Linked DNA regions of Homo sapiens. The protein of the gene in region 3 interacts with the protein of the main gene of each other region in a biochemical or structural test. Each region holds a gene or a part of one and is shown on either strand. Other genes may lie near its edges.

Evidence for each region.
Region 1: of the proteins of FBXL12 (region 3) and ALDH3A1, one has a biochemical effect on the other in vitro, tested with the Homo sapiens proteins (one study listed by BioGRID).
Region 2: the proteins of FBXL12 (region 3) and RNF32 form a complex in vitro, tested with the Homo sapiens proteins (one study listed by BioGRID and IntAct).

What each region holds. Positions count from the first base shown.
Region 1 is NC_000017.11:19,736,237-19,746,440, reverse strand, and holds the end of ALDH3A1 (aldehyde dehydrogenase, dimeric NADP-preferring), read left to right. Parts: intron 1-828; exon of another isoform or gene 829-1,306; 5' UTR 1,307-1,311; coding exon 1,312-1,473; exon of another isoform or gene 1,474-2,871; intron 2,872-2,977; coding exon 2,978-3,209; coding exon of another isoform or gene 3,210-3,810; coding exon 3,811-3,896; intron 3,897-4,228; coding exon 4,229-4,437; intron 4,438-5,230; coding exon 5,231-5,348; intron 5,349-5,963; coding exon 5,964-6,105; intron 6,106-6,766; coding exon 6,767-6,933; intron 6,934-7,345; coding exon 7,346-7,445; intron 7,446-7,987; coding exon 7,988-8,118; intron 8,119-8,205; coding exon 8,206-8,220; 3' UTR 8,221-8,452; downstream 8,453-10,204. UniProt on the Homo sapiens protein: ALDHs play a major role in the detoxification of alcohol-derived acetaldehyde. They are involved in the metabolism of corticosteroids, biogenic amines, neurotransmitters, and lipid peroxidation.
Region 2 is NC_000007.14:156,634,482-156,644,858, reverse strand, and holds the start of RNF32 (RING finger protein 32), read right to left. Parts: upstream 4,086-10,377; 5' UTR 4,048-4,085; exon of another isoform or gene 2,825-4,047; intron 1,883-2,824; exon of another isoform or gene 1,772-1,882; intron 1,059-1,771; 5' UTR 982-1,058; coding exon 967-981; intron 361-966; coding exon 102-360; intron 1-101. UniProt on the Homo sapiens protein: May play a role in sperm formation.
Region 3 is NC_000019.10:9,808,145-9,817,658, reverse strand, and holds the end of FBXL12 (F-box/LRR-repeat protein 12), read left to right. Parts: exon of another isoform or gene 1-3,488; coding exon of another isoform or gene 3,489-3,521; intron 3,522-4,384; exon of another isoform or gene 4,385-4,428; intron 4,429-5,941; coding exon 5,942-6,763; 3' UTR 6,764-7,389; downstream 7,390-9,514. UniProt on the Homo sapiens protein: Substrate-recognition component of the SCF (SKP1-CUL1-F-box protein)-type E3 ubiquitin ligase complex.

The DNA.
Region 1 (10,204 bases), on a different chromosome or scaffold from region 3:
TAACCTTGCCTTACCTCCTACCACTAATCTAATAGGAGAACTCTGTGATTATGGCTCCATTCTCCCGGTCAAAGTGCTGGAGTGCAATGGCCCAATCTCGGCCCACTGCAACCTCCTCCTCTCAGCTTGGTTCAAGCAATTCTCCTGCCTCAGCCTCCCAAGTAGCTGGGACTACAGGTGCCTGCCACCACTCCCAGATAATTTTTGTATTTTTAGTAGAGACAGGGTTTCACCATGTTGGCCAGGCTGGTTTTGAACTTCTGACCTCAGGTGACCCGCCCACCTCAGCCTCCCAAAGTGTTTGCTAGGATTATAGGCGTGAGCCACCGCGCCCGGCCTGTAACCTGTTTTCTTTCTTATCCCCAGTGCCTGAGACACCCCTGGTGCAGAGAGAGCCCCTACAAACATGCTGAATAGCCTGCTCCACCTAATCCCTAAATACTGCACAGTAAACCCTTACGTGGGTGTGACAGGAGTCATTTAAACTGTCTCCTTTCTTTCGGATCTTTGGGATGTTTACAATACTTCCCTGTTATAGAAAACAGTGATGACTTTCTTATTCGTGAATGTTTAGGAAAGGCTGTAGGACCTTTTCGTCACAGAGAAGTATGTTTGAAAAACTTTTGCCACATATTGCCAAATTGCCCCCAGCAGGGCCATCCCGATTTGCCACTATACTTTCGTGTATTGGTAGCAGGAATCGCCTCCACACCTCTTTGTGGAAATCTGCAGCTCTCTGAATCCTTGGCGGGCATGGGCGTGCGTCTCCCAGGTGTGGCACGCGTGGTTTACACACCAAGCCTGGTTCAGCTCTGCCAAGAAACCAGCGCTTTTTAGAACAATGGCTTAGCCAGGAGGGTGGTGCTGGGTTTTTCTTTATCGGCTTGGGTGTGGAATCGCGGACTGCGCCCCTCCAATCTGATCTGGAGAGTGGCTGACTGCGTGTGCAGAGCTCTGGGGGTGTTGGTCTGGGATTGTGCCATCAGCTTTGCAAGCAAGTAAGGGAGCGGAAAAGGCCGGGAAAGGCCCTGCCGCGAGCACGCTGCCAAGAGCCCCCAGCAGCAGTTCGGCTTAGGACTCGGGTTGCGGCGGGTGTCACCTTCTCAGGGGCTAGCAAGGCAGCCAGGGCCCAGGCGTCTGAGTGAGGGGCGGGAGAGGAGGCGAGGCAGAAAGTGGACCTTCCAGCGGAAAGGCCATTTTCCCCAAGGCCGAGCCCAGGGAAGTCCCTTCCTATAGAATTCAGGCAGGGTGGGAGGCAGGGCGCGCTCGTGCCCCTCAGCCAGCTGCAGGTGCTCTCTGTCCCCAGGCGCCATGAGCAAGATCAGCGAGGCCGTGAAGCGCGCCCGCGCCGCCTTCAGCTCGGGCAGGACCCGTCCGCTGCAGTTCCGGATCCAGCAGCTGGAGGCGCTGCAGCGCCTGATCCAGGAGCAGGAGCAGGAGCTGGTGGGCGCGCTGGCCGCAGACCTGCACAAGGTGCTCAGGCTGGGCGGCCGCCTTCTGCCAGTGTCGGGGCCATGCGATGGGGCGTGGGGGGAGGGGCTGGGGAGAGTGCGACCCAGAGAGGTTCAGGAAGGACTTGGGGCCACCTGGCCCCTCGGTCGCGGAGACTGGGCGCACCGCCCTCCCCTCCGCCGCGCCCCGCGCGCCCCCGCCGCCTCTTCCGCCCTCTGGCCTTTTCCTCCTGGCCCGGCCTCCGCGTCCCGCCCGCAGCGTCCCCCATTTCAACTTCCTGCTGCCCCGACACCCTGAACTTCTGGTCCTCCCCATTCCTCAGCCCCACGCAGGACCACTTGGTTCTCCACACCAGGAACCAGAGCAGCTTGGCACCCCGGAGGGCATGGGGGGCTCTCCCCTCCCTCCCAGTTCTCACAGGGGCTGTTCCGTCCCTCACCCTGAGCAAGACCAGACACCTCTGCATTCGCAGCCCCCTGCTGTCCCCACATGCTGCCTGGGGTCCAGCGCTCCGGAGCCCATCCTCCCACCGACTACCCTCTTTGCTCCTGCACTTTTATTTTTATTTTATTTTATTTATTTATTTGAGACAGAGTCTCGCTCTGTCGCCCAGGCTGGAGTGTAATGGCGCGATCTCGGCTCACTGCAACCTCCGCCTCCCGGGTTCAGGCAATTCTCCTGCCTCAGCCTCCCCAGTAGCTGGGACAACAGGCGTGTACCACCATGCCCGGCTAATTTTGTATTTTTAGTAGAGACAGGGTTTCGCCATGTTGGACAGGCTGGTCTTGAACTCCTGCCCTCAGGAGTTCCTCAGGAGGAGTTCTCGGCCTCTCAGAGTGCTGGGATTACAGGCATGAGCCACAGCGCCGGGCCTGCTACTGCACTTTTCAAGAAATGGCTCAGGACTTCTCATCTTAAACCAGAAACAACAAGGAAACCCATTCTGTTGACTTTACAGCTTCTGTGTTGCTCTTCACAGCCCAAGTTTATAAAAGAGACGCGTTTTCCGCCGTCTGCATCTCCTCTTCTCACCCCTGCTCCCCACAGGAGGCCCTGAGCGCCCAGCAGCCCTTGGTCCTGCATCCCCCTCCAGACAACTAAAGGGCCTGGCTCCCTCCACCCTGCCCGGATCCAGCTCCCAGTGCCCGAATCTATCCCCCCTCCCCGGATCCATCCCCCCCTCCCCGGATCCATTCCCACTGCCTGAATCTACTCTCCCCTGCCCGGCTCTATTCCCCCTACCTGGATCCATTCCGTTGCCCATGCCTGGTCCCTTCACCGGCTCTCTCCCCTGGGGCCGCAAACCTACCTGGGCCCCCCTCTGGCAGAAAGGGGTCCTCTCAGACCCACAGGTCCAACGGCTAATCCTGGCTCTGCTTCCCCTGGGAGCCTTCTGCGGCTGCCCCCACCCTGGGCTGGGTGAGTGACCCCCATCACCCTGGCAGCTGAGCAGTGGGGCTCCCCACTCGCCCCAGCTGCAGGCGGGCCCTGGCCCTGGAAGCTCACTCCGGCTCTGTCGCTGCAGAATGAATGGAACGCCTACTATGAGGAGGTGGTGTACGTCCTAGAGGAGATCGAGTACATGATCCAGAAGCTCCCTGAGTGGGCCGCGGATGAGCCCGTGGAGAAGACGCCCCAGACTCAGCAGGACGAGCTCTACATCCACTCGGAGCCACTGGGCGTGGTCCTCGTCATTGGCACCTGGAACTACCCCTTCAACCTCACCATCCAGCCCATGGTGGGCGCCATCGCTGCAGGTGCATGGCCCTGTGGGAAGGGAAGCTGGGGGAGCACCGTCCCCCAGCGTGGAGCCAAGCCAGGATGGGCTCAGGCCTGTGTTAAGAGTCCTGGGGTCAGATAAGGGTTTGCTGGGTCTGTCACAGGAGGCTGTGGGGACCAAGCTGTTTAGCCAGGCCTCTTGGTGCCTGAGGTCCAGTCAGGCTCAGGTGTCCACACCTGGTGATACAGAGAGGGCCTGCCTTCCCCCACCCCTGTTGGGGGGCTGGAGCTTCTGTCACCTAATATGCATCAGGGCTTCCTTCCTAGAATGGGCCAGCGCTGTTCTACCAACCGGGCCCCCAGAGCCTCTCTCCCCTTTCTGCTTTTCCTCCAACATCTCAGCAACTCAGAGGGCCAGGTGGTGCAGCTCTGGCCAGCGTGTGCCCGTGTGTGTCCCTCTGTCATGTGCCCGTGCGTGCTCCTGGGTGTGCCCCGTGACATGTGCTTGTTTGCTAACAACTCTTCCATCCACTGTCCCGAGGACACACAATGGAGGGGAGGCTTCAGGTGTGGTCCTTGGGAGGGCAGAGCCTCTGGTGAAGTACCCTGGGCATAGGCCTGGCTCGGTGTGCTCTGCAGGGAACTCAGTGGTCCTCAAGCCCTCGGAGCTGAGTGAGAACATGGCGAGCCTGCTGGCTACCATCATCCCCCAGTACCTGGACAAGGTGAGTTGCCCTCCAGGGCCTCGTAACTCCATGGCCTCATAACTGAGCTAGGGCCAGGTCTTTGGGGGGTGAGAAATAGTGAATTCTTGCAGCAAGGGGCCAAGCTACTGGTGGGGCTGAGGATTGTTCTTAGCAGCTGCCCTCTCTCATTGGGGTGAACAGAGCCCCTGGGCCAGGAAAGGCGGTCTACTGCCAGTTACTGCTACCCCCCGCCCAAGGTGGGGTGCTGAGCTTCGGGGCTGCTGGTCTTGGCCACTGCAACTCACCCACACTTGCAAGAGCGAGGAGGGGCTTGGTCTTTGCTGAGCCTCCCCTCTCTCCTTGCATGGAAGGATCTGTACCCAGTAATCAATGGGGGTGTCCCTGAGACCACGGAGCTGCTCAAGGAGAGGTTCGACCATATCCTGTACACGGGCAGCACGGGGGTGGGGAAGATCATCATGACGGCTGCTGCCAAGCACCTGACCCCTGTCACGCTGGAGCTGGGAGGGAAGAGTCCCTGCTACGTGGACAAGAACTGTGACCTGGACGTGGCCTGCCGGTGAGAGGCACGGGCCTGCTGGCTGCAGCAGTCCTTACTCTGCTTTCCAAGCACACATGACTGCACCTCATGCTGTGGGTCCACTCTGAGTAACACAGACACCCCCTGCCTCATGGAGCAGTGGTCCTTGCAGAAACTTACATGGGGGTAGGGGTGGGGACCACATGCACAGAAGACGTGTGGGGAGTCCCAGAAGGCTTCCTGGAGGGGGAGAGGTCTAGGCTGAGCTCTGTTTGCTGAGTGCGCATCACTGGGGAAGTGGTACTCCAAGCAGAGGCTGCAGAAAAAGCAGCTGTGGGACGTTCAGGACACAAGGAACTGTACTGGGTTCAGCCCTCTGATGGGGCAGGGCAATCTGAGTTCTGGAGAGCAGGCCCAGAGGGGAGAAGGGCCACCGCTGCTCGGGGTCTGGGGCAGAACCCGTATCTGCACCTCCTGACCCTAGCCAGGGCTCTGACCACCTCCATATCCCACATCTGTGGCCCCAGAGATGTAGGGGGGCCCGAGTAGCAGTGACACCTGGCTGTGCAGGACAAGGGCGTGATCAGGGAGCACGGAGGTTGCCCTCAACAGACGTCCTCTAGAAATTCCCCACCAGTCGCCGGTGAACATGATCAGGGCCATTGGGTCTGCTCGGTCCAGTGTCTAGAAGTGAGCAGACCGCTTGGGAGGACTCACTGGTGGCAAGGTCACAGCCGATGGCTTCTGCTGACCAGAGAGCTCAGGGGTCTGCAAAACGAGATGCAACTCCTGGGGAACCTTTTGGATTTAGTCCAGTCTGGGATTCTCACAGACGCATCGCCTGGGGGAAATTCATGAACAGTGGCCAGACCTGCGTGGCCCCTGACTACATCCTCTGTGACCCCTCGATCCAGAACCAAATTGTGGAGAAGCTCAAGAAGTCACTGAAAGTGAGTGTTGACCCCTTGGCAGGGTGGGATGAGAGGCTGTAAGGCACAAGGGGGGCCTGGCCCCTTAACCAACTTCTACAGATTTGGAAACACTGGATTTATTTTCTTCTAATATAAACATAATGCAAGCTAGGCATGGTGGCTCACACCGGTAATCCCAGCACTTTGGGAGGTAGAGAGTGGAGGATCACTTGAGGCCAGAAGTTTGAGACCAGCCTGGGTAACATAGCAAGATCCCATCTTTACAAAATATGTTTTTAAATTAGCCAAGCATGGTGGCATGGTGGTGCATGCCTGTTGTCTCAGCTACTTAGAAGGCTACGGCGAGGCTGGAGCATTGCTTGGGCCCAGGAGTTTGAGGCTGCAGTGAGCTATGATTGCACCACTGCACTCCAGCCTGGGCAACAGAACAAGACCCTGTCTCTAAGAGAAAAAAAAAAGATAATGCACACTCACTATAGATTATTTAGAAAAGATTAAAAAGCATAAAGAAGAAAAAAGCTCCACCCAGAATCCCACCACCCAAAGACAGACACTGCTGGCCTGTGTCTGTGCAGCCTTTGGGCAGGACGAGGCTCTGCGTCCTTACCCGAAGCCCCCACCTCTTCTCCACAGGAGTTCTACGGGGAAGATGCTAAGAAATCCCGGGACTATGGAAGAATCATTAGTGCCCGGCACTTCCAGAGGGTGATGGGCCTGATTGAGGGCCAGAAGGTGGCTTATGGGGGCACCGGGGATGCCGCCACTCGCTACATAGGTGCGTGACCCCTGAAGAGCACAGCCCACCTGCCCAGGCTGCAGGGGTCCCCAGCAAGTTCACAGCAAGTGGGCACAGATGCTTGATAAGCGGACACGACCTCGGGATGGGTATAAATTGCTTTCACCAGGGAGCCTGCGGTAGACTCCAGCAGGCAGGGGCTGAGGACAGCCCCTGCTTCAACCTCAGAATCCCCTCTCCCAGCAAAGGCCCAGAAAGAGGGGCCTCATCTCCCTGCCCCTCTGAAGCAGCAGGAGCAGGGACAGCAGAAGCCACAGGAGCCCCAGGTGTGCCCAGCCGTGAGGGGCCCCCAGTGCCCAGGCTGTGGGTCACCAGATGGGACCCTCTTGGCCCCGAGTTTGTCAAGGAGACAAGAGAATTCTGGCAGGGCATCAGGTGGCCGGCAGGTGCAGTGCCTGCTCCTGGAGACAGATCTCGGGTCCTTCCGTACAGGTTAACCTATAGTTGTCCCCAGTGGTCTGCTCAGATGGCATCCAGGACGCAGGTGCCTAGGGTACCTCTCTGAGGCCTCGTCCCTGCCCTTTTCCAAGCCTGGGCAGGTTTGCCTGGAAAAGGGTTGGAGCAGGGGTCTAGGTGCTTGCACTTTCCATCCGCGTGGGGGTCTCTGCGCCGTCCAACTCTGGCTTGTTTCCTGCCTCAGCCCCCACCATCCTCACGGACGTGGACCCCCAGTCCCCGGTGATGCAAGAGGAGATCTTCGGGCCTGTGCTGCCCATCGTGTGCGTGCGCAGCCTGGAGGAGGCCATCCAGTTCATCAACCAGCGTGAGAAGCCCCTGGCCCTCTACATGTTCTCCAGCAACGACAAGGTGGGTGGTGGGCCTGGGGTGCCCTCTGCCAGGGTCCTGGGGCCCACAGACCTGGGTTCAAACTGCAGCTTCACTGTTCTCTGGCTGTGTGACCTTGGGCAAGTCACTGGATCTTTCTGAGCTCCTTTCACCTCGTCTGTAAGATCAGGACAGCAGCATCACCTGAGGGCACTGAATGAGCGATCCTTGCCCAGGGCCCTGCACACAGGCATGGGGGCGGCTGCTGTCACTCTTTGCTCATGTGGTGCTGACAGCCACGCGGTCTGCAGGAAGAGCAGGAGATGGAGGCTAAGGCTCTGCCTCCACCTGCTCCTGTCCTTGTGGCTCCAGGCTATACCCAGGCAGGGTCGGGTTGGGGGCTGGGGCATCCTGTGGGCAGGAGACTGAGGCCAGTGGCTGGGTCCTGGTGCAGGTGATTAAGAAGATGATTGCAGAGACATCCAGTGGTGGGGTGGCGGCCAACGATGTCATCGTCCACATCACCTTGCACTCTCTGCCCTTCGGGGGCGTGGGTGAGTCTGGGGCTGAGCTTGCTGCCTCCCTCTGGGCCCCAGGGCTGGGCACACTCACCCAGCAAATTCAGGAGGGACCACCTCCTGCAGCCCGGGCGGCAGCCTCCCATTAGCCTCTTCCATTTGGACCTTGGCCTCTGCGTGCCATCCATCAGACACACTTAACCTGGGAGCCTAGAGGTTCCTAGAGGTCACCTGGTGCACCGGCCTATTTCATGGAGGCCTGAGAAAGGTGACCCAGGCCAGAGGTCACACAGCCATTTAGTGGCAGAGCTGGGATTAGACCCTTGCTGGGCACTCCCACAGTGTGGATGCCCTGGGGACACCCTAGACATTGGCCACCCTCAGGAGGCCCAGAAAAGGGCCACAACCTGGGGCTGGGTGCTGAGGGCCATAGGATTTGAGGGAAGGATGGGTGATGGTGGCTGGGGCTCTGCCTCCCTGTCCCTGTGGTTCTGGGATACACCCAACAAGGTGGAGAGGGAAACCTGGGGCGTCCTGGGGGCAGGATGCTGAGCCCTGTGCTTACTTCTCCTCCGCAGGGAACAGCGGCATGGGATCCTACCATGGCAAGAAGAGCTTCGAGACTTTCTCTCACCGCCGCTCTTGCCTGGTGAGGCCTCTGATGAATGATGAAGGCCTGAAGGTCAGATACCCCCCGAGCCCGGCCAAGGTGAGAGGGGGAAGGCGCTGTGGGGGAGACCGGGCTGTGCGGGACCAGGGCCTGGGGATCACTGCCCACTCCGTGTCCCTTTCACAGATGACCCAGCACTGAGGAGGGGTTGCTCCGCCTGGCCTGGCCATACTGTGTCCCATCGGAGTGCGGACCACCCTCACTGGCTCTCCTGGCCCTGGGAGAATCGCTCCTGCAGCCCCAGCCCAGCCCCACTCCTCTGCTGACCTGCTGACCTGTGCACACCCCACTCCCACATGGGCCCAGGCCTCACCATTCCAAGTCTCCACCCCTTTCTAGACCAATAAAGAGACGAATACAATTTTCTAACTCAGCAAATGCAGGCATATGGCACTTCTTTTGTAGCCCTGCACCCACCGACCTGTCCTGCCTGATCCCACTGCCCCACGCAGTGTGGTCACTGATGTACCAGCAAAGGCCTCTCATCAGCTGGTGGGGCCTTGTGCCAGGAGGCCATGCACGGTGTCAGGGTGACACTTGTCTTCCTTTTAGACTTGGGGAGGTCAGCTCCATCTCTGGTGTGTCCAGCCAAGGAGAGCCTGAGGAGGCTGGGCCTTGTCGGCACAGTGGCTCAGATATGGGGAGCTGATGCCGTCTCTTCCCAGACTAGCTTCACTATCTCGGGCAGGGGCCACTTTGTGAGACGATGCAGTAGTCAACACAAAACGCCCTGGTGATGTCATAGTGCTGCTCGTGGGGGCAAAGGACCCGAGGCCAGGCAGCACCAGCACCCACGGTGCCTCAACTGCATGGCGTTGGGCTGCAGCTGGCCCAGAGTCCCGCCCCAGAGGCCTGAGGAGCCAGGACAGGGTCTGGCAAGGGGAGTCTGAAGCTGGGTGTTCTGGGGGCTGGTTAGACTCAGAGCCAGGAAGCCTCCCAGCCTGGGCCTGGCAGGTAAGGGGAGGCTGCTGGGGGAGACCTGCTGAGGCTGGGCCTGTCCCTCAGGGTCCTCTACACAGACTCTCCTGGTATCATGCAGGAAAGCCCTCCCGGCTTTTGCTGAGATTTCCTTGTGAAAACATAGAGTTTTGTGCCACCACCAACAGGTGTGCCTGGCCCCACCTGTGCCTGCTCCCAGCAAAAGCCCACCCTCCACCTGGCCCGTGCCCCGCCACCACCACCCCCTTCCCACTCCTGACCTTACTCTCTCTCCTGCATCTTCAGTTTCCCCTTCTGTCCTGGACCATTCCTATTCTCTAGTGTCTTGAACCTTATTCCAAGTCCCCCAGACCCCAAATGCAACCAGAAAAACCGTTAAGTGTTACCTGTGCTTCCTTCCCTCCAGTGAGGGGGTGGGAGCAGGAGCAGAGAGGAAACTGTTTTCTTATGTTTTGTTTTGTTTGGATGTTTCCCGCGTGCACCTGTGACTTATTGTATACCCAGAGAATTGAGCCAAACTAAATCTTGGCTGGGAGTGGTGGCTCATGCCTATAATCCCAGTACTTTGGGAGGTCAAGGTGGGAGGATCCCTTAAGCCCAGGAGTTCAATACCAGCCTAGGCAATAGAGACCCTGTCTCTACTAAAAATAAAAAATTAGCTGGGTGCGATGGTGTGTGCCTGTAGTCTCAGCTACTAGAGAGGCTGAGGCAGGAGGATCACTTGAGCACAGGAGTTCGAGGCTGTAGTGAGCTGTGATGGTGCCACTGCACTCCAGCCTGGGAGCCACAGTGAGACCCTGTTTCTAAAAAAATTTTGAAAACCAAAACCAAGAACAAAACAAAATAATATTTTCTCCTAACTGGCTCCCCCTGCGGCAACTGCCTCATGTCTCTACGCTCCTTCCCGGCAAGACTCATCTGAATGGTTGTTCTCAAACAGCGCTTCCTGTCCCCACTAACTTCCGCTTGCCCAGGTGACCCTCCCTCACCTCTGTCCTACAGGGAAGCCCTGGCTCTTGACCAGGCAGGCACAGTCTCGTGCGGGCAGATCCCCAGGGTCTCGCAGCCACCTTGGGCATCTCCACTGCCCTGCCACCTCCTTCCGTCTGACCCCAACCTCCCTCGAACACTCTGTTCTCCGGGTTCCTGGACCCCACGTGCTCCAGTTCTCCTCCCTCACCAGCTT
Region 2 (10,377 bases), on a different chromosome or scaffold from region 3:
TATAAATAAGTTATTTCTGTAACATAAAAAATTATACTATTAATCTCAATAGATTTTTTTAGCCCTAATAAGCCAAAAGATGAATGACTACGTCAGCTTACCCAAAGTCAACGGCGGCGGTTTGGGATCAAGAACATATTCTTTTTCTGAGTCTTCTAGTTTGGGGCACTGTGTAGTTTTTTTAAGTCCAGTATCTATTATTGCCTTTGTATCTCTTTTTAGAGATTTGTTCTCTTTCTTTTGTACTTGTGTCTTAGAATGATCTGCAACTGAAAGATTTCGAAGTTGAAGATCATGTAAAATGTGATCTTGTAAAGCAACTGCATTGACTGCCAAGTTATCTTTCTTAGATGAGTGACCCTAAAAAGTAGGAAAAAAGTCATATTTAGAGGAGTATTATGTAATATATCATTTAGAAGAGAACTGAGGCTTCAATACTCAACCTTGATGGCACATACAACCAAATCAAATAGTAAGGAATGCTTGACTCATTGTTACCTAAGTAGGAGCAGACCCTTGTCTCAGCATTTATGTTAACAATACAGGAATATCTTTTCATTTAATTATGAAAGCCTTAATTATAATATGAATAAATTCATTATGACCCATAAACCTGTGCATGCCTAAACAAACCCACGCTGCTTCACTATAATTAAATTAGACTCCAGGCAACTACTAAGGAGACTCCTGCCATTTCAGCTTATGCCTTTTTGTGAAAACTTAATAATTTCCTGTGCAGAATAAAAATCACCAAACAGCTAAGAGATGCTTGCAGTAAATATCGCCAGAGATTGTTTTTCCATTGGCTTGTCCACTGCCCCATGCGACACTTGGCATCGCCCATTCCTGCTGACAATTCCTAGTTCAAGCAGGGTTTGCAAACTAGTTTTTATACTCTCAAATGGCTGAATTAAAATACATTTCATGAGTCAAATAACGTGTATGTTTAAGAAAAGAATAGCGTACCTTATTTTTTAACATGCCGAATTAGGAAAAGTTGTTGCTTGGCTATCACAAATTCTATCATCACATCCTATCACCTTCCTTCTATTCTTCTGCTGCAAAGACGTGGTCAACAGAAAGTCAAAGTTACAGTGCACAGAAAAACCATGAAGTTTGTGAGGATGCTCTGTAAGAGTCTAACAGATCCTGAAGCAGCAGGAATGCCTGCTACAGGGTGGCACTAAGCTACACATTCTGGTTCTGGAGGAAGGGGGTGAACTCAAGTCAGTTATGCTTCGACTCATCCCTGTCCTCAAATAGTTCACCCCTGAGCTCCTGAGGACACATTAATACAAATGGTTAATTACTATGAATTAATCCATTGCTAAATATAACATGATACATAAGTACTACAAAACTTCAGGCTAACACTGGAGACTTGGAAAAACCAGTTAAACTGGCATTTGAAAGATACACAGAGGGAAATGAAGATGGCACATTACAGGTAGGAGGAAAGAACTGGCAGGCTGGAAATCAGCATGATATGCTTATTTTGGGGAGAAAGGGAACAATGAAGAAACTGGAACGCAAGAGGAACACTGGCTAACTTCAGTCTGTCCAGAACACAGAAGTACAGAATATGGGGACAGACCAACTTGAGTTCCAATTGAACTCTACCGCTTTGCTGCGCAAGATACTGGACACAGCTGAGCCCCAGGCTCCTCATCTATAAAGCAGGTATAATAACGCTGGCTTTGCAGGGTTGCCGCAAGGATTAATGAGACAACCTTTGAAGTATCTAAAGTAGGTCTTTTCACACAGAACTTACTCTTGTTATTCTTGCTTCAATTCCCTTCAAAGCTGGTGGAATAATTTGGAATTGGCCCTTTTAGATTTTGGACATGGTGTATTTTATGAAGACAGATGTATTCAAAATATACTGTGATGAGGAGAAATAGAAAGTTATTCAAGTAATCTAGGAACTGGCACAGAAGGCCCTTGAACATATTTCTTCTAATGTTGTTTCCCTATAACGCTGATGAGAAAAAAAATTGATCCCCAGCAGGGGCCACTGTCTGTTTGGAGTTTGCACGTCCTCCCCATGTGCTGTGGGTTTCCTCCAGGTACCCCGGGTTCCTCCCACATCCCAAAGCTGTGCACGTGAGGCTCACTGGGGCGTCCCCGTCTGAGTGAGTGTGAGTGTGCCCTGCCATGGGATGCCGTCCTCTCCAGGACTGTTGCCCGCCTTGGTCCTGAGCTGCCTGGATGGGCTCAGCCCCCTGCCACCCTGAACTGGAATAAGCAGGTTGGAAAATGAAAGGATACAAATTATTGTCAAATAAAAACTCGTAAAGCATACGGTATTCACACAGAGATGCAGGACAATACCCGATGCAGTAAGAAAGGCCCAGCGGGCTGAGAAGTGGCTCCTGTTTGTTTTGAAACTGCATGGTAGGGGGAGGTGCTTCAGAGCTTTGGCTTGGCCAACATTATCTTTAACACAGCCCCTCCACAACCCGGTCACTCATGGATTCACCAGAAATTGGGTAATGATATTTCTTAAATGTAGAGCTCATATGTACTTCAGTGTTTCATATTAGAAGTGCTTTGGTCTTTATTTAGAAGTTTGGCGATGTTTTTGTGACCAGGAATGTGCTGTGGGAACTTTCCTCTTATTTATATCAATTAACCTATGGTGAAACTGGTTTCCTTGTACACTGCATGGCTTAAAGCTCCAGTTTCTAAGAACCTATGGATGATGTTAAGTGAAGACTTACTGTGTTGAGGGCCTAACTCTAAAAATAGAAAGAAATTAATCCAAAATGTATTTCTAAGGACTAACACTTGTATTAAATTACTCCAACCGAAAGAACAAACTCACTAAGGCGTGAGTGGAGAGATAGAAAAGCACAGTGGAACCAAATCTCTGAGATATCCAGGGTTAGAAGTAAAAACGTCAGTCGCTGCTCAAGTCCTGGAGGCTTTGATGATGGTTCTTACTACAGCCCTTTTCTGTTCCCGTTCAATTCTGGCATCAAGAGATGTTTGAAATAAGTTCCACCCTGTATCTCATCAAGACAACTGAACTTGGAGAAATGGTGGAATTTAAAATACTGAAAGATCACTGCCAGAATTTTCTCAGTTCCTGCTTCCAAAATGCCTATAACCTGCAGAAGATACAGTTTGCATCACACTAAAAATGGTCCGGTCATAGCTGCAGTCTGCAATTTAATCTCAAGTTTCTACACAGTAGACCACTGTCATTAATATCAAGGTAAGAGCTTTTAAAACCTATACTCTCTTAAAGTCCTACGGTATCATTAAGTTTTAGAGTTTAAAATTCAGAATTTAAAGGTATTGAAAACCCTTCAAGTACCTACTCCAACTCCACTTTATAAATGAGAAAACCAAATACCAGGTGAGTCCTTCAATATATAATGAGCCTGCGGCACTGGTAGGGTTAGAAACGTAACCCTTGCCCAGTATTGAAAGCTAAGATTAACAGGAACCCGTTGCTTTGTAAATCCCAGTATTAAACGCTCAAGAGGCAGAGCTTGGTGGCAAAAACGATCACTGGGGTGCCAAAGCGAGTAACCTCAGCTAATTAAACACGCTCAATAAAAATACACGAGACCAAGCCTACGACGTAAAGATGCAATCCTACGTAGGGTCTTGGTGTTATCTCCTGCCTTCTGAACCCCGCTGACCGTTTTCTGAGGTTCCACTCATGCAGGAAGCGCGCGGTGACGAGGCTCCAATTCCTCTCAAAGCTGACACCACCCTGCACCTGGGGCCCCTGATGGCAGCCGGTCCTACCGGGTTCTAAAATTACCGACGTGGGATCACTGTTCTAAGGCTTTAGGCAGCCGTAAATTCGTACCCCTCAGATAGAAGGAGCTGTGGAAACTAACCAGGACCCCGAGTCCCCCAAGGAGGCTGCGCGCCGCTACGGGACCCGACCTCGCCTCACAGCTGCGGCCATCGCCGGCCCGGCTCGGAGGAGGCGAAAGCGAGGCCGCGGACGGCCCTCACCCCGAATCCATGGACCCCGCCCGCCTGGCGGGCCACCCTTCTTTCCGTCCCTCCCCCGAAGCCTCTCCGTGCCTCGACTCCTCCGCGAACACCGGAACCCAGGGACGTCTGCCCCTTTTCCCTCAGGCAACTCCCTGGCCGCCCACCGTTGCCGTAGCAACGCCCGCCTCCGCGCTCGCTCCCCGCGGGCTTGCTCACCAGCCCTGCCCCGCCCCGCCCCATACTGCGCATGCTCGCCAGCCCCGCCCGGCCCACATTGCGCATGCTTGCCAACCACGCCCTGTCCACACCACACTGCGCATGCTCGCCGGCCCCCGCCCCGCGCACGGCGTCAGCGTCTAGACGCAGGTGCGTTCCCGTCGAGGCTCGCGCAGCGGGCGTTTTTGGGGATCGCCTGGCGGGGGTGTTCGGGAGCCGCGGGCTGAAGCACGGGGGCGTGCAGGCGCCCAGGCCTCGTGTAGTGAGGGCCGAGCCCCGCGCCGGCTTCGCTGTAGTCCGCAGCCCCCGGCGGCTTTGTGGGCGCAGCCACGCTCCTCAGCCGCCCGCCCACCTGGGCCTGGGCCCCGGTTGTTTCCCTGCGGTGGCTGTGGTCGTTCCCGTTCCAGGGTCTCGAGCGCACCGCCCCTTCGCTGCGCTGTTAGTCGAGGGCAGTTTTCTGGGGGATCCCCCGATCCCCCCGCGCCGCTCAGGCGTCTTGGCTCGCGGAAGCGCAGGCGCCGACTGCCTGGCGTCGTCCGTGACTCCTGGCCCTTCTCTGTGGATCCCTTTGCTTCTCGTTGCGGGTTGTGTTTCCTGCTTCGTGGGCCTGGCCGTTTGCGTTTGGATGCAGGCCCGGGTGAGCCCTGCGTGGCCCGCTGGCCTTTTCCTGCTCCCTAGGTGACTGAGCCGCGTGTGTGACACATCGGAGTGAATTGAGGCAACGCGTTCCTTTCCAGGCTTGCAGCGGGCGGTGTCGTTCACGCTCCTGAGCAGAGCCTTCCGGTGCTTTACTCGACGCCACAAATAGTGCAGGGTTCCTCCCAGGGGCTGTCGCGAGCTAGAACTCTTCCCCGCCCCTGTGAGCTCGGGCTGTTCTTCCTCCTCCGCGTGGCTCACTCCAGCCTCGGATGTTTCCTCGCTGCACAGACCTGCTCGGGAAGACTCGAGAAGGCCACCCCAGGACTCCAGCTCTCCCCGGAAGGGCTTCCCCTCGGATTGCGTCTTGGCCCCTGGAACCCTCCCTCTGTATCCTCTGCTGTTCCTCTCTTGGCCTCCATTTGGGTTGTGGCCTGGATACTCTGGCTCGCTGCTTCCCTTCTCTTAAGGATCACAGCCCTGCACTGCCTGTCGTCCGGTGCCTGGAAACCATTGTATTTTTTGGTCTGATTTTGTAGTTGTTTGAGAACTTAAGTCTGGTCCCTCACACTCCATGCCCAGAAGCAGAAATGAGTAAAGTTTGTTTTATCTTTTCTTAATATGACAATTATTGTGTTGGTTCAACTTATGTTGTACTTTAATTAGAAGAAATTTGGCCGAAAATACAAGGAAAATATACAAATGCAAGTAATTTTTTTTAAACTTCCCTGAAAGCAGGGTCTAAAGAAATTACCAACCAACTTAGACTGGATCTAGAAGAAAAGGAAGGGTCTTTGCAGTCTTAGGACTCTTCCGTTCCGCGACGTAGGTGTTAGGATAACAGCCATAAATGGTTGTAAGACTTTGGGCTCAGATAAGTAGACTTAAGTTCAAATTTTGACTTATTTTACAAGTGTGTGATTTTTGGCAAGCTCATCTTCCTAAACCATGAGCTCCTTATTTGTAAAGGGGACATTAGCCACTCTCCAGCAACAGCCCTGGTACTTCTTCAGTCCTGGGATGGGACGTATGATTAGCCTAAGCGAACCAGAAAATCCAGGCCCGTGACCAGTGACTTGATCAGGGCTGGCGATATATCTAGGTAGGCCAACCAGGTGGACTCAGTATTTTTGTGGGTGCTACTGGAAAATTTATTTAATTCTAACTGAATGTAGAAACAGCAACAGACATGAAATGGCAGTTGTATTGCTGTCTTATCATGAGGTGAGGGCCTGAAGCTATGGTAGCCACCCTGTGAACCTTGGAAGGAGGGTTCTACAGGAACTGGCAGAGCTGAGACTGGGACGCAACCCATGTCCTGGTGACGTATTTGAGTCCTGAGGCTGGCCCTCCTGTTAGTCTTTTCTCTTACTGGCTTCAGCCAGATGGGGTCTGGTTTTCTGTTACTTGCAACAGGAAAAATTGGAATGATATCTATGCATGCTATTACCGCCTTATGGCTGTGGTGAGATTAAAACATGATACTGTGGGTGAACTGCTTAGTACAGTGCCTGCTATTCTTTATGTTGGTTTTAAGGTATTTTTCTTGAACTTTAAAGTTCTAAGAAAAATTACCGTTTTAAAATTCCTACCCTCTGTTCACATGTTTAAATTTTCATGATAGTTTTTCTGTCTGCATGTTTTCTATTCAAAATAAATTGGTCATTCTTCAGTTAGCCACGAAGAATATTGTGAATTTTTTATTTTTAAATTTATTTTTTATTGATACATATTAGATGAACATGTTTTTGGATAACGTGATAATTCGATAAATTCATAAAATCAAATCAGGGTAATTGGGATATCCATCCCCTTAAATATTTATCTTCTATTTACACTAGGAACATTCAAATTATTCTAGCTATTTTGAAATGTGCAATCGATTTGTGTTAAGTATAGGCTTGACTGAAAATTTAACCTTATTGCTTTCTAATTCTTGACAAAAACAAAGCTAACATAGTTGATATTTGAAGAATACATTCATTCTTCAAGATAGTGTGTTCTGTTGAAATGAGTTAGATGATCAGAATGCAACATTCTTGGATAGGGATAATTAAAAATATAGTCAACCTATCTTGTCCCCAAAACCATGTTATCAATGATTTGTATTTTAACATTATGCCTTTTGTTTTAAAAAAGTTTTTTTGTTTTTTTGAGATGGGCCTGAGAAACTGCATGTATACAAAGCATGTTTACATCTTCAGAAAACTGCTATTGAGTACATTCTCCATGGTGCTGTTCAGTGCCATTTGTGTAAGCACCCACATGATTGTTTTAGAATTTCAAAACCACTAATTGAATGTCCTAGGAATAGTGGAGACGGAAGAGAAAATTAGAGGTGCATGATGTTAAGGATGTTGAGGTGCTTAGTCACAAGGAGAAGGGCACCAGTGTACTTGGCTGATTAAGATGCACTTCTGTACTCCACTGTGCTTAAGAAGAAAGCTGCGGGTGGTACTCTAAGAGATCTGTTGTATAAACATTATCACAAAAAGAGTGATGATACCTGTGCTTATCCAAGGAAGAGCAGCCCAAGATGGATGGCAATAGCGGACTATTTAAGTGGAAGACATTGATATGAAGGGAAAATCTTATATTTTGCTTGTGTAGAGCGCAATTCACAGAAAGTGTTCAAATACTAGAATAGGCAGTTGGAGTCCAGCTTGTGGAAGATGGGGTTTTCTTCATGATGACACTAGAGATCATGATATTGGATACTAGTGCTGGCCCTGTATTTTTATTTATTTATTTATTTATTTATTTATTTATTTATTTATTTATTTATTTTGAGACAGAGTCTCTGTTGCCCAGGCTGGAATGCAGTGGCGCCATCTCGGCTCACTGCAACTTCTGCCTCCCAGGATCAAGTAATTCTCCTGTCTTAGCCTCCCGAATAGCTGGGATTACAGGTGCCCGTCACCACGCTTAGCTAATTTTTGTATTTTTTAGTAGAGTCGGGGTTTCGCTATGTTGGCCAGGCTGGTCTTGAACTTCTGACCTCAGGTGATCCGCCTGCCTCGGCCTCCCAAAGTGCTGGGATTACAGGCGTGAACCACCGTGCCTGGCCTATGGATTCTTAATGTATCATACCCATAATATTTGAATTTGCCCACCTGCCTAGTCTCTAAACACTGCACTAATGAAAGCCTAGGCAGGGTCAGAATGGTTCTTAGTTCAATATCCTTCTCACATTTTAGTATCTTAATGCTCTCACATTTCTCCTTTGTTATGTACAAAATATTCTCAAAGCCTACTCAGTGCCTATTTGACTCTTGTCTCTCTTAACACAGTCCTTGACATCTAAAACAAACCTAAGGAGCAGAAATTGGTGGCATGGGGTTCATCTTTAATTTAGTTCTCAATTTTAACCTTCACCAAAACCATCTCTCCATTTATTTTTCTTAATCTTCTGTATTACCTTTAACTTTCTACTCACACTTGTATATTTATTTATTTATTTATTTTTTCTTTCTTTATTATTATTCTTTAAGTTTTAGGGTACATGTGCACAATGTGCAGGTTAGTTACATATGTATACATGTGCCATGCTGGTGCGCTGCACCCACTAACACGTCATCTGGCATGAGGTATATCTCCCAATGCTATCCCTCCTCCCACACTTGTATATTTATTATCAATTTCTATTCCTAACTTGCTGATGTGGTTTGGCTGTGTCCCCACACAAATCTCACCTTGAATTGTAGTAAGTAATCCCCATGTGTCAAGGGCAGGGCCAGGTGGAGAGAATTCAATCATAGGGACAGTTTCCCCCATACTATTCTTGTGGTAGTGAATAAGTCTCACAAGATCTGATGGTTTTATACATTGGAGTGGCCCTGCGCAAGCTCTGTCTTGCCTGCTGCCATATAAGACCTGTCTTGCTTCCTGTTCCACCATGATTTTGAGCCCTCCCAGCCATGTGGAACTGTGAGTCAATTAAACCTCTTTCCTTTATAAATTATGCAGTCCCGGGTATGTCTTTATTAGCAGCATGAGAACAAACTAACACCCTTGCTTCCACCCAGATTATTTTTTCAAATAATTCTAAGTCATTGCCTATATTATGCAGTATGTGATGTCCAGCAATTGTTTGGAAATTTGCCAATCTCTCCGAGTGTTTTGTAGCAGCAGTTGCTGTAAAGACTCAGGTATACTTGTGGGAACTTACTGAAGTGTTTTTTTTTTTTTTTTCCTAGAGATTATATTATAGTTCTGTTTTGTCTTTAATAATGAAAAAGGGCTTAGGATGAGTTGTTTCCACTCCTCTGATAAAATGCATTTAAAAAAATACCTGTGGCAGACATATCATGATGACATCATTCCTGTCAACATTAAAATAGTAGTAGAGAAACACTGATGAAAACACTTCCGACACTGGAGAAGAGAGGAGAAATCTTGTTTTCATTCTTACTCTATAATTTAAAGTCACGGGTATAACAAGCGAGCCTTTAAAAACTGTTTTCCGAATTAAAAAATGGAGCAAATTCATTCTTTGTTGTTGAATTCAATATACTTAGAAGTAATTTATCACTTTGGTAAAGAATAATGTCCTACTATGCCTTAATATCTGACACGATGGAGATATTCTTGCTATCTACACTGTGATCACCAGATACCAGACACTTCAAAAATGTTGCCAAAAGCTGTTAGGCATACTGATTGTATGAAAGGTGTTTGGGTAATGTGGACTCCTTTCAGACATTTGTGATTTTTCTGCCTTAATTGAAAGTTTTGACAGGTTTGTAAAAGCATAAATGTCAGGTTATTAGTAGAAACTCTAAAATAACCTGGGAAATAAATACATATACTGGTTTCAACCACTTTGGCTAAAGCTGAATGTCTCTAAAAATTGAATCAGCTGATGCTCTAATATGTTAAATATATCAAGAGACAGGATGTTTCCTGATCACATCCAGATAATTTTTTTAATTAATAGATTTATTTTCTTAATAAATTTTACAGATAAATTGAACAAATAATACAGAGAGCTCCCTCTCCTTGCAACAGTTTCCCCTATTTGCCATTTGTATGCTATATTTGTTAAAATTGATGTACAATAAGGTTGTTCATGTTTAATGTTGACTATGAAATTCTCCGCAAATAAAAGTATACCCCACAAGTACACAGGAGAGACCCCTTCTGCAGTTCTATTCATAGAGGCACAAGCAAAGGAACTATTGAGAGATAAGAGTCTCATGATAGCAGAAAAGTATTGATCCATGATCTTGGGAAAGCTGTCCACATCTAGGATGCTGTCTGCTTTTAGGGAGAAACTTTCCTGGTTAGCTTTACCTTAAGGTCTCCAACAAGTGTATAGATTGAAGAGTCTGGAGGGGCCCATTTCAGCTGTGAGATTGTAAACCCAAGGCTCAAGGTGCTGAAGTTTTGCTGCAGTGTAAGTGGCAGGGGCAGTCTTTCCCTGATGATGTTTCCAGAAGAGTCAGTTTCTAGGCTTTAGATCATGTAGGGTTTGTCCTCAGTGGACCATGGAAAGCTTTCTTTACCTGGTGAAAATAGACTTGGGCATAATGCATTAAAGCCTGGCAGCACTTAGTCATATCAGAGCTT
Region 3 (9,514 bases):
TGCTATGTTGCCCAGGATGGTCTCGAACTCCTGGACTGAAGCTGTCCCCCAACCTCAGTCTCCCAAAGTGCTGGGATTACAGGTGTGAGCCACAGTGTCTGGCCTGATAATATGAAACTTTTTCTCAGTTGTTGAAACTTAGTTGTTGGTTTTGCGAGGAAAAGTTGATTCGTCCATTGGTTTTGTGTGCATTTAAAATTTTACCAACTTTAACTGCTACCCTTGTGAGTTACCATTCGGTGGCCACTATTTCTAGTCAATTTCTGCTGACCCACACGGGTCTAAATTTGGCAAGGAAGATTTGATTCCTCTGTCAAAAGTAGCCCATAACATTTATGCTCTGCAGTTTATCTTTTTCTAATTTATTTTTTTGAGATGGATCTCACTCTGTCACCCAGGCAGTGGCAAAATCATAACATACTGCAACCTCCATCTCCTGGGCTCAAGCCATCTTCCTGCCTCAGCCGCCTGAGAAGATTCATTAAAACATGTTTCTTTCTCTCTTGGTTCATGATATGGTTTGGCTGTGTCCCCACCCAAATCTCAACTTGAATTCTATCTCCCAGAATTCCCACGTGTTGTGGGAGGGACCCGGGGAAAGTAATTGAATCATGGGGCCAGTCTTTCCCATGCTATTCTTGTGATAGTGAATAAGTCTCACAAGATCTGATGGGTTTATCAGGGGTTTCCTTTTTTGCTTCTTTCTCATTTTCTTTTGCCATCAACATGTTAAGAAGCGCCTTTCACCTCCCGCCATGATTTTGAGGCCTCCCCAGCCATGTGGAACTTAAGTTCAATTAAACCTCTTTTTCTTCCCAGTCTCAGGTATGTCTTTAGCAGCAGTGTGAAAACAGACTAATACTGTAAATTGGTAGCGGTAAGTGGGGCGTTGCTGAAAAGATACCCAAAAATGTAGAAGCATCTTTGGAACTGGGTAACAGTCAGAGGTTGGAACAGTATGGGGGGCTCAAAAGAAGACAGGAAAATGTGGGAAAGTTTGGAACTTCCTAGAGACTTGTTGAGTGACTTTGCCCAAAATGCTGATAGTGGTATGATCAATAAGGTCCAGGCTGAGGTGGTCTCAGATGGAGATGAGAAACTTGTTGGGAACTGGAGTAAAGGTGACTCTTGTTATGTTTTAGCAGAGAGACTGATGGCATTTTGCCCCTGCCCTAGAGATTTGTGGAACTTTGAACTTGAGAAAGATGTTTTAGGGTATCTAGTGGAAGAAATTTCTAAGTGGCAAAGCATTCAAGAGGTGACTTGGGTACTGTTAAAGGTATTCAGTTTTATAGGGGAAGCAGAGCAGAAAAGTTTGGAAAATTTGTAGCCTGACTATGTGATAGAAAAGAAAAACCCATTTTCTAGGGAGAAATTCAAGCCAGATGCAGAAATTTGCATAAGTAGCAAGGAACCTAATTAGGACCATGGGGAAAATGTCTCCAGGCCATGTCAGAGACCTTCACGGCAGCCCCTCCCATCTCAGGCCTGGAAGCCCAGGAGGAAAAAGTGGTTTCCTGGGGGCCCAGGGTCCCTGTGCTATGTTCACCCTGGGACTTGGTGTCCTGTGCCCTAGCTGCTCCAGCTGTAGCTGAAAGGGGCCAACGTATAACTCGGGCTGTGGCTTCAGAGGGTGGAAGCCCCAAGTCTTGGCAGCTTCCACATGGTCTTGAGCCTGCTGGTGCACAGAAGCCAAGAACTGAGGTTCAGGGCCAGGCACAGTGGCTCACGCCTATAATCCCAGCACTTTGGGAGGCCAAGGCAGGCGGATCACTTGAGGTCAGGAGTTCAAGACCAGCCTGGCCAACATGGTGAAACCCCATCTCTACTAAAAATACAACAAATGCGTGGTGGCGCATGCTTGTAATCCCAGCTACTCGGGAGGCTGAGGCAGGAGAATCGCTTGAACCCGGGAGGCAAAGGTTGCAGTGACTCAAGATCGTGCCATTGCATTCCAGCCTGGGTGACAAGAGCGAAACTCCATCTCAAAAAAAAAAAAAAAGAATTGAAGTTTAGGAACCTCTGCCTAGATTTCAGAAGATGTGTGGAAATGCCTGGATGTCCAGGCAAAAGTTTGCTACAGGGGTGGGGCCCTCATGGAGAACCTCTGCTAGGGCAGTGTGGAAGGGAAATGTGGGGTCAGAGCCCCCACACAGAGTCCCTATTGGGTCACTGCCTAGTGGAGCTGTGAGAAGAGGGCCACTGTTCTCCAGACTCCAGAATGGTAGATCCACCCACAGCTTGCACCATGCACCTGGAAAAGCTTCAGACACTCAACACCAGCCTGTGAAAGCAGCTGGGAGGGAGGCTGTACCCTGTAAAGCCACAAGGGGCGGAGCTGGCCAAGACCATGGGAACCCACCTCTTGCATCAGTGTGACCTGGTTGTGAGACCTGGAATCAAAGGAGATAATTTTGGAGCTTTAAAATTTGACTGCCCCACTGGATTTCAGACTTGCATGGGCCCTGTAACCCCTTTGTTTTGGCCAATTTCTCCCATTTGGAATGGCTGCATTTACCCAATACCTGTACTCACATTGTATCTAGGAAGTAACTAGCTAGCTTTTGATTTTATAGGCTCATAGGTGGAAGGGACTTGCCTTGTCTCAGATGAGACTTTGGACTGTGGACTTTTGGGTTAATGCTGAAATGAGTTAAGACTTTGGAAGACTGTTGGGAAGCCATGATTGGTTGTGAAATGTGAAGACATGAGACTTGGAGGGGCCGGGGTGGAATGATATAGTTTGGCTGTGTCCCCACCCAAATCTCAACTTGAATTGTATTTCCCAGAATTCCCATGTGTTGTGAGAGGGACCCAGGGGAAATAATTGAATCTTGGGGGCTGGTCTTTCCCATGCTATTCTCGTGATAGTGAATAAATCTCAAGAGATCTGATGGGTTTATCAGGGGTTTCCATTTTTGCTTTGTTCTCGTTTTCTTAATTTTTTTTTTTTTTTTTTTTTTGAGATGGAGTCTTGCTCTGTTGCCAGGCTGGAGTGCAGTGGTATGATCTCAGCTCACTGCAACCTCTGCCTCCTGGGTTCAAGTGATTCCCCTGCCTCAGCCTCCTGAGAAGCTGGGACTACAGGCACGTGCCACCACACTGAGCTAATTTTTTGTATTTTTTAAATTAATTTATTTATTTTTCTTTGAGTCGGAGTCTTGTTCTGCCACCAGGCTGGAGTGCAGTGGTGCGATCTCAGTTCACTGGAACCTCTGCCTCCCGTGTTCAAGCGATTCTCCTACCTCAGCCTCCTTAGTAGCTGGGACTACAGGCATGCACCACCACACTCGGCTAATTTTTTTTTGTATTTTAGTAGAAACGGGGTTTTGTCATGTTGGCCAGGATGGTCTCAATCTCCTGACCTCGTGATCCGCCCGCATCGGCCTTCCAAAGTGCTGGGATTATGGGCATGAGCCACTGCGCCCGGGCTTCTTTCTCATTTTCTCTTGCTGCCGCCATGTAAGAAGTGCCTTTCACCTCCTGCCATGATTTTGAGGCCTCCCCAGCCATGTGGAACTGTAAGTCCAATTAAACCTCTTTTTCTTCCCAGTCTCAGGTATGTTTTTATCAGCAGCATGAAAATAGACTAATACAGTTTGTATTACATGGGTATATATATGCATGTATAAAAGGCAAATGTAAGCATGCTTTCTGAAGGATTGATGATAAGCTATTTTCTTCAGTGAATGGAAGAGTTTGATGTAGAAACACCTTTTTGGCCGGGTGCAGTGGCTCATGCCTGTAATCCCAGCACTTTGGGAGGCCGAGGTGGACAGATCACTTGAGGTCGGGTGTTTGAGACCAGCCTGACCTACATGGAGAAACCCTGTCTCTACTAAAAATACAAAATTAAGGCCAGGCGCGTGGCTCATGCCTGTAATCCCAGCACCTTGGGAGGCCAAGGTGGTTGGATCACGAGGTCAGGAGATTGAGACCATCCTGGCTAACATGGTGAAACCGCGTCTCTACTAAAAATACAAAAAAAACATAGCCGGGCATGGTGGCATACGCCTGTAGTACCAGCTACTTGGGAGGCTGAAGCAGGAGAATTGCTTGAACCTGGGAGGTGGAGATTGCAGTGAGCCGAGATTGCGCTACTGCACTCCAGCCTGGGCAACAGAGCGAGACTCTGTCTCAAAAAAAAAAAAAAAAATTAGCCGGGCATGGTGGCACATGCCTGTAATCCCAGCTACTCAGGAGGCTAAGGCACGAGAATCGCTTGAACCCAGGAGGCGGAGGTTGCGGTGACTGAGATCGTGCCATTGCACTCCAGCCTGGGCAACAAGCAAAACTCCGTCTCAAAAAAAAAGAAAAGAAAAGAAACACCTTTGTAAGCACACATAAAGAATATGTTATTAGACAATTTTCCTTTTTCCATTAGGCCCTATGATGCCAAGTAGAGAAATCCAGCAATAAAAGGCAGATGTAAGCATGCTAACTTTTTCTTTTTAAGATAAACTGTACTTAGAATGAAATGCCCAGTGCTATCAATTATATATATTTTTTATTTTCTACTAAGTCTAACTTCCCAGGGTTGATTTTTGCAGCTTCCACTCTACCAGGCTTTGATATATTTTTTTTTTTGACATGGAGTTTCGCTCTTGTTGCCCAGGCTGGTGCAACGGCACGATCTTGGCTCATCGCAGCCTCTGCTTCCCAGGTTCAAGTGATTCTCCTGCCTCAGCCTCCCAAGTAGCTGGGATTACAGGCGTGCACCACCACACCTGGCTAATTTTGTATTTTTAGTAGAGACGGGGTTTCTCCATGTTGGTCAGGCTGGTCTTGAACTCCTGACCTCAGGTGATCTGCCCGCCTTGGCCTCCCAAAGTGCTGGGATTACAGGTGTGAGCCACCGTGCCCAGCCTTTTCATTTGTTGTTTTTTTTTTTTTTTTTTTAACATAGACCTAATTTACTCTGGGTAGTTTTCGGCTTTTAAAATTTTATTCTGTGTTGCTTATTTCTACTGGAGGTGATCATTAAGAAAGGGGTAAAATATCAATGGGTTGCTCTGCTCTTTTTCTTAGTCCAGAAAAAACGGTAAAAATTTATTGCTAAAGATAGATTCTGTTAGTATCTTTTTTTCCCCTACCAGATTTATCTTTTTTTTTTTTTTTTTTTTTTTTTGAGACAGAGTCTCACTCTATCGCCCAGGCTGGAGTGCAGTGGTGCGATATCGACTCACTGCAACCTTTGTCTCCTGGGTTCAAGTGATTCTCTTGCCTCAGCCTCTTGAGTAGCTGGGATTACAGGTGCTTGCCACCACGCCCAGCTAATTTTTGTATTTTTAGTAGAAACATGGTTTCACCATGTTGGCCAGGCTGGTATTAAACTCCTGACCTCAAATGATCCATCCACCTCAGCCTCCCAAAGTGCTGGGATTACAGGCATGAGCCACTGTGCCCAGCCCCTACCAGATTTATTCTAAGTGGCCGAGTGCAGTGGCTCACGACTGTAGACCCAGCACTTTGAGGGGCTGAGATGGGAGGATTGCTTGAATCCAGGAGTTGGAGACCAGCCTGGGCAACATAGCAAGACCTCATCTCTACTAAAAATCACAAAAATTAGCTGGGCATGTGTCAGAAGTCCCAGCCACTTGGGAAGCTGAAGTGGGAGAATCACTTGAGCCTAGGAGGTCCAGGCTGCAGTGAGCCATTATCTCACCACTGCACTGTAGACTGGGTGACAGAGCAAGAACCTGTCTCAGAAAAAAAAAAAAAAAAAAAGATTTGTTCAAAGCCCTAGCAGGCAAGATGGTGCACTCAAACCATCTGGTTGAACCTGGGGAGGTTGAACCTGGGGAGGAGACTGGCTAGGCAAGGGCAGAAGCCCAGCAGGGCACCAGAATCCCCCACCCCGGGGTTGTGTGTCTCCAGCCCAGCAGGGGCCTTGGAAGCTCCATACCTCTCACTCTGTCACCCCAATCTCTGGCTCTTACAGATGCGACCTAAAGTCATGTGGCACCTCCTTCGAAGGTACATGGCATCCCGGCTCCATTCCCTGCGGATGGGTGGCTACCTGTTCTCTGGCTCCCAGGCCCCCCAGTTGTCCCCTGCTCTGTTGAGAGCCCTGGGCCAGAAGTGCCCCAACCTGAAGCGCCTCTGCCTGCACGTGGCCGACCTGAGCATGGTGCCCATCACCAGCCTGCCCAGCACCTTGAGGACCCTGGAGCTGCACAGCTGCGAGATCTCCATGGCCTGGCTCCACAAGCAGCAGGACCCCACCGTGCTGCCCCTGCTTGAATGCATCGTGCTGGACCGCGTCCCCGCCTTCCGTGACGAGCACCTGCAGGGCCTGACGCGCTTCCGGGCCTTGCGCTCGCTGGTGCTGGGTGGTACCTACCGTGTGACCGAGACAGGGCTGGATGCTGGCCTGCAGGAGCTCAGCTATCTGCAGAGGCTTGAGGTGCTGGGCTGCACCCTGTCTGCCGACAGCACCCTGCTGGCCATCAGCCGCCACCTCCGAGATGTGCGCAAGATCCGGCTGACCGTGAGGGGCCTCTCTGCCCCTGGCCTGGCTGTGCTGGAGGGAATGCCGGCCCTGGAGAGTCTGTGCCTGCAGGGTCCCCTCGTCACCCCAGAAATGCCCTCCCCCACTGAAATCCTCTCCTCCTGCCTCACTATGCCCAAGCTCAGAGTCCTTGAGCTGCAGGGGCTGGGGTGGGAGGGTCAGGAGGCGGAGAAGATCCTGTGTAAGGGGCTGCCCCACTGTATGGTCATCGTCAGGGCTTGCCCCAAAGAGTCTATGGACTGGTGGATGTAACTACTCCACCTGCCCTTGGGACCCATCCCAGTTTTCATCATTGAGCCCCAGACCCTCTGAGCAGCACCTTGAAGAGGGCAGATAATCAGACTTGAGGAAACTGAAAGCCCCAGGTTGAGAGAACAGAGGCCTAGGGACCTCCAGACCATTGGAATCACTGTTTGCCAGCTGTGTGGCCTTGGTCATATCATCAGCCTCTGGGAAGCCTAGTTCCCACATCTGGAAATAAGGATGATCATAGCTACCTCACGGTTACATTGCAAAGCCTTACTCTAAAAGCTCCCAGCCTCCAGAGGCTCTCAATGAAGAGTCACCTTCATGGTCGTCTTCAGGAACAGGACGGATGAAGAAGGGGTGGGGTTAAGACTCAGGGGCACCTGAGGGTCTGAGCCCCCTTATGAGTACCCAAGAAGGACTGTCTATGCATGCACACCCACAAGCCTATACACCATTTATATACCTACACGCACGCAAGAGACGCGGAGAGATAGGCGATGCAGACTCGCGATTCAATGATCGATATGCTCATAAAAGTGCTCAATTATATTTTCTGTATTTTGTATGCTGTATTTTCCAAGACGTATATTATTTTACTATTAAAGAAAAAAATCATTTTTTTTTCCCGAGAAGTATTCAGTTTATTCATTCAACCAATCTTTCTTGAGCTTCTGCTATTTTGCAGGCACTGTTCTAGGTTCTGGGAAACTGGGCCACCACAGTGAACAAAACTGACAAGACCCTGCCCTCGTAGATCTCATAGAGGAGAAGACAGGACAACAAACAGGTAAGCCAGTCCATGCTTTAGTTTTTTTGTGTGGGGACAGAGTCTCACTCTGTCACCCAGGCTGGAGTGCAGTGGTGCGATCTTGGCTCACTGCAACCTCCGTCTCCCGGGTTCAAGTGATTCTCCTGCCTCAGCCTCCCAAGTAGCTGGGATTACAGGCACCCGCCACCACGCCCAGCTAATTTTTGTATCTTTAGTAGAGATGGGGTTTCACCATGTTGGTCAGGCTGGTCTCAAACTCCTGACCTCGTGATCTGCTCACCTCGGCCTCCCAAAGTGCTGGAATTACAGGTGTGAGCCACTGCGCTCGGCCACCATGTTGTAATTTTGGAGACTCTGAGCCAGTACACCAGGGTCACGTGATGGAGGCATACTTGCATGGTTGAGTGAGCACGGTAGGCCTCTGTGCTGAGATCTGAGAGGTGAAGAGAAAGCAAAGATCAGAAGAGCTAGGGCAGAAGAGGAAAGGCCAGCACTGCTAAGATGAGAATGAACTTGGCATTTTCCAGAAACAGAAAGAAGGTTGTGTGGCAGAGTGAGCAGGGGTAAGAGCTGTCGAAGTTGAGGTCAGGGCCGGGCATGGTGGCTCACATGTGTAAACCCAGCACTTTGGGAGGCTGAGGTGGGTGGATCACTTGAGCCCAGGAGTTTAAGGCCAACCTGGGACATCTGAGGCAAGTGAATCACTTTGAGTTCAGGAGTTTGAGACCAGCTTGGGCAACATGGTGAAACCCTGTCTCTACAGAAAAAATTAGCCAGGTGTGGTGGTGTGCATCTACCCAGCTGGTATCCCAGCTATTCAGGAGGCTGAGGTGGGAGGATTGCTTAAGCCTGGGACTCGGAGGTTGCAGTGAACTGTGATCACCACTGCACTCCAGACTGGGTGACAGAGTGAGACCCTGTCTCAAAAAAAAAAAAAATAAAACAAAAGGAGATAATGGGGACAGGAGTGGGCAGGGCCTTGCAGGTGGCTCAGGCTTTAGGGGTTCAGTAAGTAACACCACCTTTTCCTGCCTTTCGAGTCTGAACCACTTGAAAGATGCAGGTGTCAGATTATAAGTGTGAGTGCCTACCCGTGAGATGAGCGTTGCTGTGTGTGGCTAAGCCCCGGCTCTGTGGGTTCACCACCTGCTCAGCAGGCCCAGGTGCCTCCTCTGGTGCTTAGAGCCAGGTTGGAGAAGAGAGCTGAGCTGGGTACACTTGGTTTCTTATTCCAAGCTTACCCATCAGAGAAGAGCCAGAGATGTTCCTCCCATGCTCTTCCCACTCAGAGTTGCAGTAGAAATTCCTTCTCTTTCTGTCTCTCTTTTTTTTTTTTTTTTGAAACGGAGTCTTGATCTGTTGCCCAGGCTGGAGTGGTGCAGTGGTGCAATCTTAGCTCACTGCAACCTCTGCCTCCCAGGATCAAATGATTCTCCTGCCTCAGCCTCCTAAGTAGCTGGGAATACAGGCGTGTGCCACCATGCCTGGCTAATTTTTGTATTTTTAGTAGAGTTGGAGTTTCACCATATTGGTCAGGCTGGTCTCAAACTCCTGACCTTGTGATCTGCCCACCTTGGCCTCCCAAAGTGCTGGGATTACAGGTGTGAGCCACTGCGCCCAACCTTTTTTTTTTTTTTTTTTTTTTTTTTAAATAGAGATGGGGCCAGGCACGGTGTGTCCCATGCCTGTAATCCCAGCACTTTGGGACACCAAGGCGGGAGGATCATCTGAGGTCAGGAGTTCGAGACCAGCCTGGCCAACATGGTGAAACCCCGTCTCTACTAAAAATACAAAGATTAGCTGGACTTGGTGGCACATGCCTATAATCCCAGCTACTCAGGAGGCTGAGGCAGGAGAATCGCTTGAACCCTGGAGTGGGAGGTTGCAGAGAGCCGAGATTGTACCACTGCACTCCAGTCTGGGCAACAGAGAGAGACTCTGTTTCAAAAATAAATATAGATAGATAGATAGGAGGTTGCAGAGAG